2 linked regions of the Homo sapiens genome follow. The protein of the gene in region 1 purifies or fractionates together with the protein of each later gene. This does not show direct contact. Each region holds a gene or a part of one and is shown on either strand. Other genes may lie near its edges.

Region 1 (3,424 bases):
GAGTCTTCGATAGCATTAGGAGTTATACCTAATGCTAAATGACGAGTTAATGGGTGCAGCATACCAATATGGCACATGTATACATATGTAACAACCCTGCATATTGTGCACACGTACCCTAAAACTTAAAGTATAATAATAATAAAATTTAAAAAAAAACAGAGTCTTCTTATTTTTTATATTAGTTACATCCAAGCCACTCTATTGCTGGAACAAATATGGTAGTGGTTGTCATGGGGAGTGATGATGATGATGATGATGATGGTGGTGGTGGTGGTAATGGTGGAAACAATGATGATATGTTACTGCCAATAAACTTCTAAAATGACAGCTAATTATGTGTCAGGCATTGCGACAACAAAATTTCAGATAGTAATTAGATTTATCCCAAGACTAGTTTGTTAAGTAAATGTTATTTTGGTCGCTTTGCAATAAAGAGATTGACATTCACAGAAGTTGAATAATATGTTCCTCAAATCAATCAAACACTAATTAAGGAAAATAAAAGTGGTTTAAATAATACAGACATAATCTTTGATATGACCCAAATTTTAAGATTCTGACTGTGGTTGAAAGAAAGGTGGAAATAAACCCAAATGATTATATAATTTTACTAATAAAGCAGATTTGAAAAGAAACAAAAGATCCATTCACAAATACGTATGCAAAGATATTTTATTCAGGGAGTGAAAGAAAAGTGACAATTGCACAGGTGTTAGAAGCCCATGCCCAGGTGACAGACAGACACAGAAAACATCAACAGCATTTTTTGATGGTTCCCAGGGACAGAGCTGCTGGTCCTTCTTCCAAAGCTCTGGGAACTGACACTGCTGAGGACTTCCTTTCTCAGTCTCCACCTGGACAGTGGCAATATGGCAGCCTCAGAAAGGAAACCTTTTGCTATCAGGGATCATCATGGGCAGATCACTGGCTAAGAGGAAAGAAGCTAACTGTGTATCCATGGTAGGCTTTGATGAGAAGATGCAGGTGAAGCTGTGGAACAAGGTGAGCCAATTATCCTTATCCTTTCATGCTCCTGATGAATTCTGAAGCTGTTACTTGCTCTTGGGTGGACACTTTGGCTGGCAGGGTGGGGAAGGTGTCACAGGAGGACATTTTTGCTGGCACTGCTGAGGTGGGCAGGGCTGTGGACACTTTGGTGGTGGGCAGGGCTCAGGGCACTTCGGGGGTGGACATGGCTCTGGGCACTTTGGCGTGGGGCACACAGGAGGTGGCTGGCAGGGCTGCTTGCACTGCTGCTGTTGATAAGACATCCTGCTGGAGTCTCAGAATCTGAAAGAAATGATATGACAGTGTTCACAGGAATGGACTCCTCCAGAGAGAGAAGCCAAAGCTTATGTAATACCATGGCATATTATTTCTCCAATCTCCAAAAATTTATTTAAACTCTTAGCTCTCTTTTCATGACTTCCTGTCTTCTCCTTTCCACTTTAGCAAGTTGTTTCATCAGCCCTAGGAATTCCTGCCTTTCCTCATACAATTTTTCCAAAGAAAACATCTCTATAATAAAGAAGCAAGCATGTTATTCCATGAAAATGACATCTTCAGGAAAGGCAGTCACAAGTTCAGACCTCCTGGGCAATCTCACAAGCTATTCCTATCATCATTATCTGTTGTAAAGCACCAGTGGGTTGACTTGGGCACAGAGCAAGGGCTGTTCAGGAAGAAGTACTGGCTCTCACACCTGCTAAGACACAAACCTTTGAAAAGGATACCAGGAAAATATGGAAAAGAGAAAAATACTTCATCCCTTTCTTCAAACCAAAACTTTCCTATTAACTTCTCTGTCCATATGGACATATAATTGTACATTTTTTAAAAATCTGTGTAAAACACTGTATCATGTAATCTAATCCTGTAGTTCCATCAACTAAGTACCATCAAACCTATGATCACAGGTTTGGATCCACCAAACTTGCTGGATTCAGGTTAAATTCAACACTTCAGGGCACAAAGAACAGAGGAACTCAAGGAAGCAGACTCACCAGGTTCTCCAAAGCAGATCAGTGCTCAAGTACCAGGAGTTTAGGAGTTGTAGAGCAGAGAACCTCTTTATAGGGCCTGCTACCCCACCCAGCAGGAAGTGGAACTACCCAAAACTGGGCTGGCCCAGCAATGTCCCAACTAAAATGCAAATCTATCCATAACTGGCATGACAGGGATTCTCAAACTGGGAAATATCCTGTTCTGGGATCTTTCCACTGGATTAAGTGCCCTGACTCACTGAGGCCCTGCCTTAGATCTCAGTTTCAGTGACAGCAAAGAGGGACTTGGGGGATTCTCTAACTGGTGGTCAAGGGCTCTCTTTCTTGATTGGGGGCAATGAATGCTTCCTGTCTTACACATTCCCTAAATCATAAAACTTCCTGCCCTGATCCACTTTAGCTGAATGCCATATTGTTTGTACATGAACCCATCTCCACCTCTACTTTCCTTGTACAATTTGCCAATGTGCTAGAAGGAAGGAGAGACCTAACAAAGGCCTGAGTTCTGGCCCCAGATTTTTTTGCTAAGCTGTATGACCACAGCCAGGTCAACTCTCCTCCCTGGAACTGTAAACAGAAGAGCATCTTATTTACCTCTGGGTTTGGAGGCACTGACCACATTGTGCCATCTGTTGATCCTGTTCAAGCCTGAAATTTTCTGCTCCACCTCTTTCTCTTGCAGAAACCCAGATTTTACCTATATTCCTTTCCTCTTTGAGGGTTGTCTTCTACAACCCTCAAAGAGGCACTTGTGTCCCAAGATAGATACCAGAGTGAGATCCAGTCTCTCCAGTACATTTGCCACTGCTACCATCAAGGGAGTGTACTACAGGCTTTTCATTTGTAAAACTGTACTCTTATTCACCACATTAAGAAAATGGAGAAAAGGGAACCAAAGTTACAAGCATTCATTTTAAATCTATGTATTGAACCATGCCTGTATGTTTCCCTGTGAACATCATATAGAGAACAAGATGCATAGACTCACAGTATCTTATGTAAATAATTAGAAGTTTTCCAGAATAGAGGTCAGAGCACTTAAAGTCTGAAATCTAGGGGAAAATATAAACTCAGTGTGATCCTATGTGTTTGCTTTCTCTACCTCTCTTTCCAAACAGGTTTTAGTCTTTGAAAAATGGTATTTTTTAATTTGTTTGTATGTTCTTCCATTGTCTTTTCCAAAAGCTCTCTAGCCCCACAACCTGCTAGATTATCAACTCACACCCCAATGTATACCTCTCATCTGTTCATTTTAGTACACATTGTTCACTCGATACGTATGTTGTCAATGTGAATGTCTTTCACATCTTTTTAAAACTCTTCCTGCAATCAATGGGGCTTACTAAACATTGTATATTAAACATTTAAAACAGTGCTGCTGGAGCTTTCTTATCTGGGCTAATGATCAGGAAGCTTTC
Region 2 (3,079 bases), on another chromosome or scaffold:
AAGGGCCCTGGGTGTCAACCCAGGAGCTTCTGAGCATCACCCTGCCTGAGGGGTGGGTTAGGAGCATCTCTGCCCTTCAGTCACCCCCAGCCCTGGCATACAGGGATGTGAACACCATGAAGTCCTTGCATGAATGAATCAGAGCATCAGATATATGTTTGTCTCCTCAGTCTGGTATACAACCCCAGCCTAGCTTCCTTCCTGGGGCTCTAAATTTCCCATGAGGGTGGGGGAAGACTGAGCCCCAGAGGGCAGGCTGAGCCTCCAAGCTCCATCCTGTTCCTCTCTTCCCTTACTCCCCAGATGGGTGGTTTGAATGGCCCAGGGTACCACTACCAGTACCAGTCTCTGTATGTACTAGAAAAAGGCACCCCTGCCTGCCCCTAGGCGGAGAGAGCCTAATGCTAATCCCAGGGAGTCCACATTGAGATCCTACTGACTCCTTCAGCTAGGGACCCTTGTTCAGGGTACAACCTGAATTGGGGTCAAGGGAGGGAGGGGGAGTCAGCAGAGCTGTAGAATGACCCCAATCCTTCCCCAGCTGTATGAGCTCGATGCAGACCCCAAGAGGAAGGAATTTCTGGATGACCTGTTTAGCTTCATGCAAAAGAGGGGTGAGTGGCATGATGTGGGGGAAGGGCCCTGGAATTGCCCCCTTACCAGGTTTGAGGAAACCCGGTTGGGTTCTCCCTGCTGAGGCCTGAGCTTGGCAGCACCTGTCCTTTGGGCCCTCGATAGCGTCTTTAACCTCTGACCCTGTCCCCCTCCTCCACCCCAGGATTAATTAGTGGCCAGCCCACTGGCAGGTTAATGAGTTTGGGATCAATTGGGAGGGTGGGAGGGGGAACTGATGGGAGCCTGGCCTGGGGTGGGAGGGTCCCAGAATCAGAGGGCTGAGAATGCCTTGGTTCTGTGTCCAGGGTCCTTCCTCCAGCCATGTCTTCCCTGTTTTCCCTTGATTCAGGCAGGGGACACCTCACGTGCTCTACAGCAGGAAGGACTAGGAATAGACTGAAGGAAGGACTTCCCAAGGGGTGGGCTGGGGACTATGTGAGTTGAGGCTGTGGAGGAGGAGAAATTCCTTTCCAGGAATGTCAGAGCTGGAGGAGAACGCAAGAAGGGTCCAGGAGGGCATCAGGGTGGGCGGCAGTCCATCACTTCAGCTTTTTCCCAGATTCATGGGACCGAACACTGACTCATTATCTCTCTCTGCAAAGCTAATTAACTCACTCAGAGCGCAGCCTGATAAGCCGCTAATTAACTGGCTGCCCTGTTACCCCCCGCCCCCCCACCGCCTTTAGTGCAGCTGCTGGCCCACTTCCCACTCCCGGCCCTCACCCCAGCACCTCTTTCTGGTCCCTTACCTTCCCAGGGACCCTCAGTAGGGACCTAAGTCCTTTTGGTTCCCAGGGAGGCCCATTCTGGTTCCAGTGTTCCCTCTCTGGCCCTTCCTCGAGGCCTCCCCTCCACTGGGGTAGCGGGTGTGAACCGATCCCAGCATTGCCTGCCTCCCTTCGGTCCCTGCCTCCCACCGCTCCAGCTGCAGGGGGAGGGGGTCCCGCGGGGCCGATAATTTTCCCCCATTAATCAGGCCGCAGCTAATTGTTCGGGTCCAAAGGCGCGGCGGAAGGGGACGGGATCGGTAAGGAATTAACTGGGGCCCATCGCTCAGCGCAGACAGGCCCCTTTGTCAGGACTGGCCGGCGGGGGCGGCGCGGGCTGCGGAGTCGGCGGGCCGAGGCGGGAGTTGATTCTTTTCCCGCCCGTCATCCCCCAGCCTTGGGCAGCCACCCGGGGGCTGCTGCTTAGGGGAGGCCGGCTCTTCAGCACTGTCCGAAAGTCCTTCCTGCGGTCTACCCCAGGGGACAGCAAACTAAAGTTTGCAGGCCAAACCCAGCTGCCTGCAAGATAAGAATGGTTTTTACTTGTTTAAATAGTTGGGGGACAAAATTTAAAGATGAATAACATCTCCAGACTGGTGAAATTCGAATTTCAGAGTCTATATTATTGGAACACAGCCGCATCCATTCCTTCAGGTATTCTCTATGGCCGCCTTTAGGCTACAATGACAGCGTTGAGTAGTTGTGACAGAGACCATTTAGCCATCTGGCCTTTTACAGAACTTTGCCCCCCCCCGTTCTAGCCTCCTGTCCTTCTTGCTAAAACAGAGACCCTGGGGTTCTGTGGGCTCCGCCCAAGTCTCCCTCTTTCCCGCCCTCCCCGGGGCTCCCGTCCTGTATCAGTCCCTGGGGATGCTGCAGACAGGGTCTTCGTCTCAGTGTCCTGACGGCAGCCCGCTCCCCACCAGGGACGCCAGTGAACCGCGTGCCCATCATGGCGAAGCAGGTGCTCGACCTGTACGCTCTGTTTCGCCTGGTGACCGCCAAGGGCGGCCTGGTGGAAGTCATCAACCGCAAAGTGTGGCGGGAAGTCACGCGCGGCCTCAGCCTACCCACCACCATCACCTCGGCCGCCTTCACTCTACGCACCCAGTGAGGCCAGGGGCGGGAGCGGAAGGGAAGGGGGCACGGGTTCGGCCTGGGGCGGGAGGGGGGAGGGTCCCCGGGCGGGCGTCCGGCTGTGGGACTTGACCAGCTGGGTGCAGCCTCCCATACACTCACCGCCCGCTGTCCGCCCCTAGGTACATGAAGTACCTGTACCCGTACGAGTGCGAGACTCGAGCGCTCAGCTCCCCAGGGGAGCTCCAGGCCGCCATAGACAGCAATCGGCGCGAGGGCCGTCGCCAGGCTTACACCGCTACTCCGCTCTTCGGCTTGGCAGGGCCGCCCCCTCGGGGCGCTCAGGACCCAGCCTTGGGTCCCGGCCCCGCCCCTCCGGCGACCCAGTCCAGCCCTGGCCCAGCCCAGGGTTCCACCTCCGGCCTGCCAGCGCATGCATGCGCTCAGCTGAGTCCAAGCCCTATTAAGAAAGGTGCGAGGGGAGAATGGTAGAGGTTTCGGGGTCTCTGAGGTTTAGGTGGGCGCTAAGATATAGCAACCATTAAAATGTGAGGATTGAGGTCTGGGGAGGCATTGAGGTATGGGAGCAGTAAGGTCTGACGGGCTTCTGAGGTTTGGGG

Evidence for each region.
Region 2: the proteins of SPRR2E (region 1) and ARID3C purify together in Homo sapiens (affinity purification with mass spectrometry; one large-scale study listed by BioGRID and IntAct). This does not show direct contact.

Annotation. Positions count from the first base shown.
Region 1 is NC_000001.11:153,092,478-153,095,901, forward strand, and holds SPRR2E (small proline-rich protein 2E), read right to left. Parts: upstream 2,050-3,424; 5' UTR 2,007-2,049; intron 1,294-2,006; 5' UTR 1,275-1,293; coding exon 1,056-1,274; 3' UTR 658-1,055; downstream 1-657. UniProt on the Homo sapiens protein: Cross-linked envelope protein of keratinocytes. It is a keratinocyte protein that first appears in the cell cytosol, but ultimately becomes cross-linked to membrane proteins by transglutaminase.
Region 2 is NC_000009.12:34,623,277-34,626,355, reverse strand, and holds part of ARID3C (AT-rich interactive domain-containing protein 3C), read left to right. Parts: intron 1-541; coding exon 542-614; intron 615-2,308; coding exon 2,309-2,492; intron 2,493-2,641; coding exon 2,642-2,931; intron 2,932-3,079. UniProt on the Homo sapiens protein: Transcription factor involved in monocyte-to-macrophage differentiation.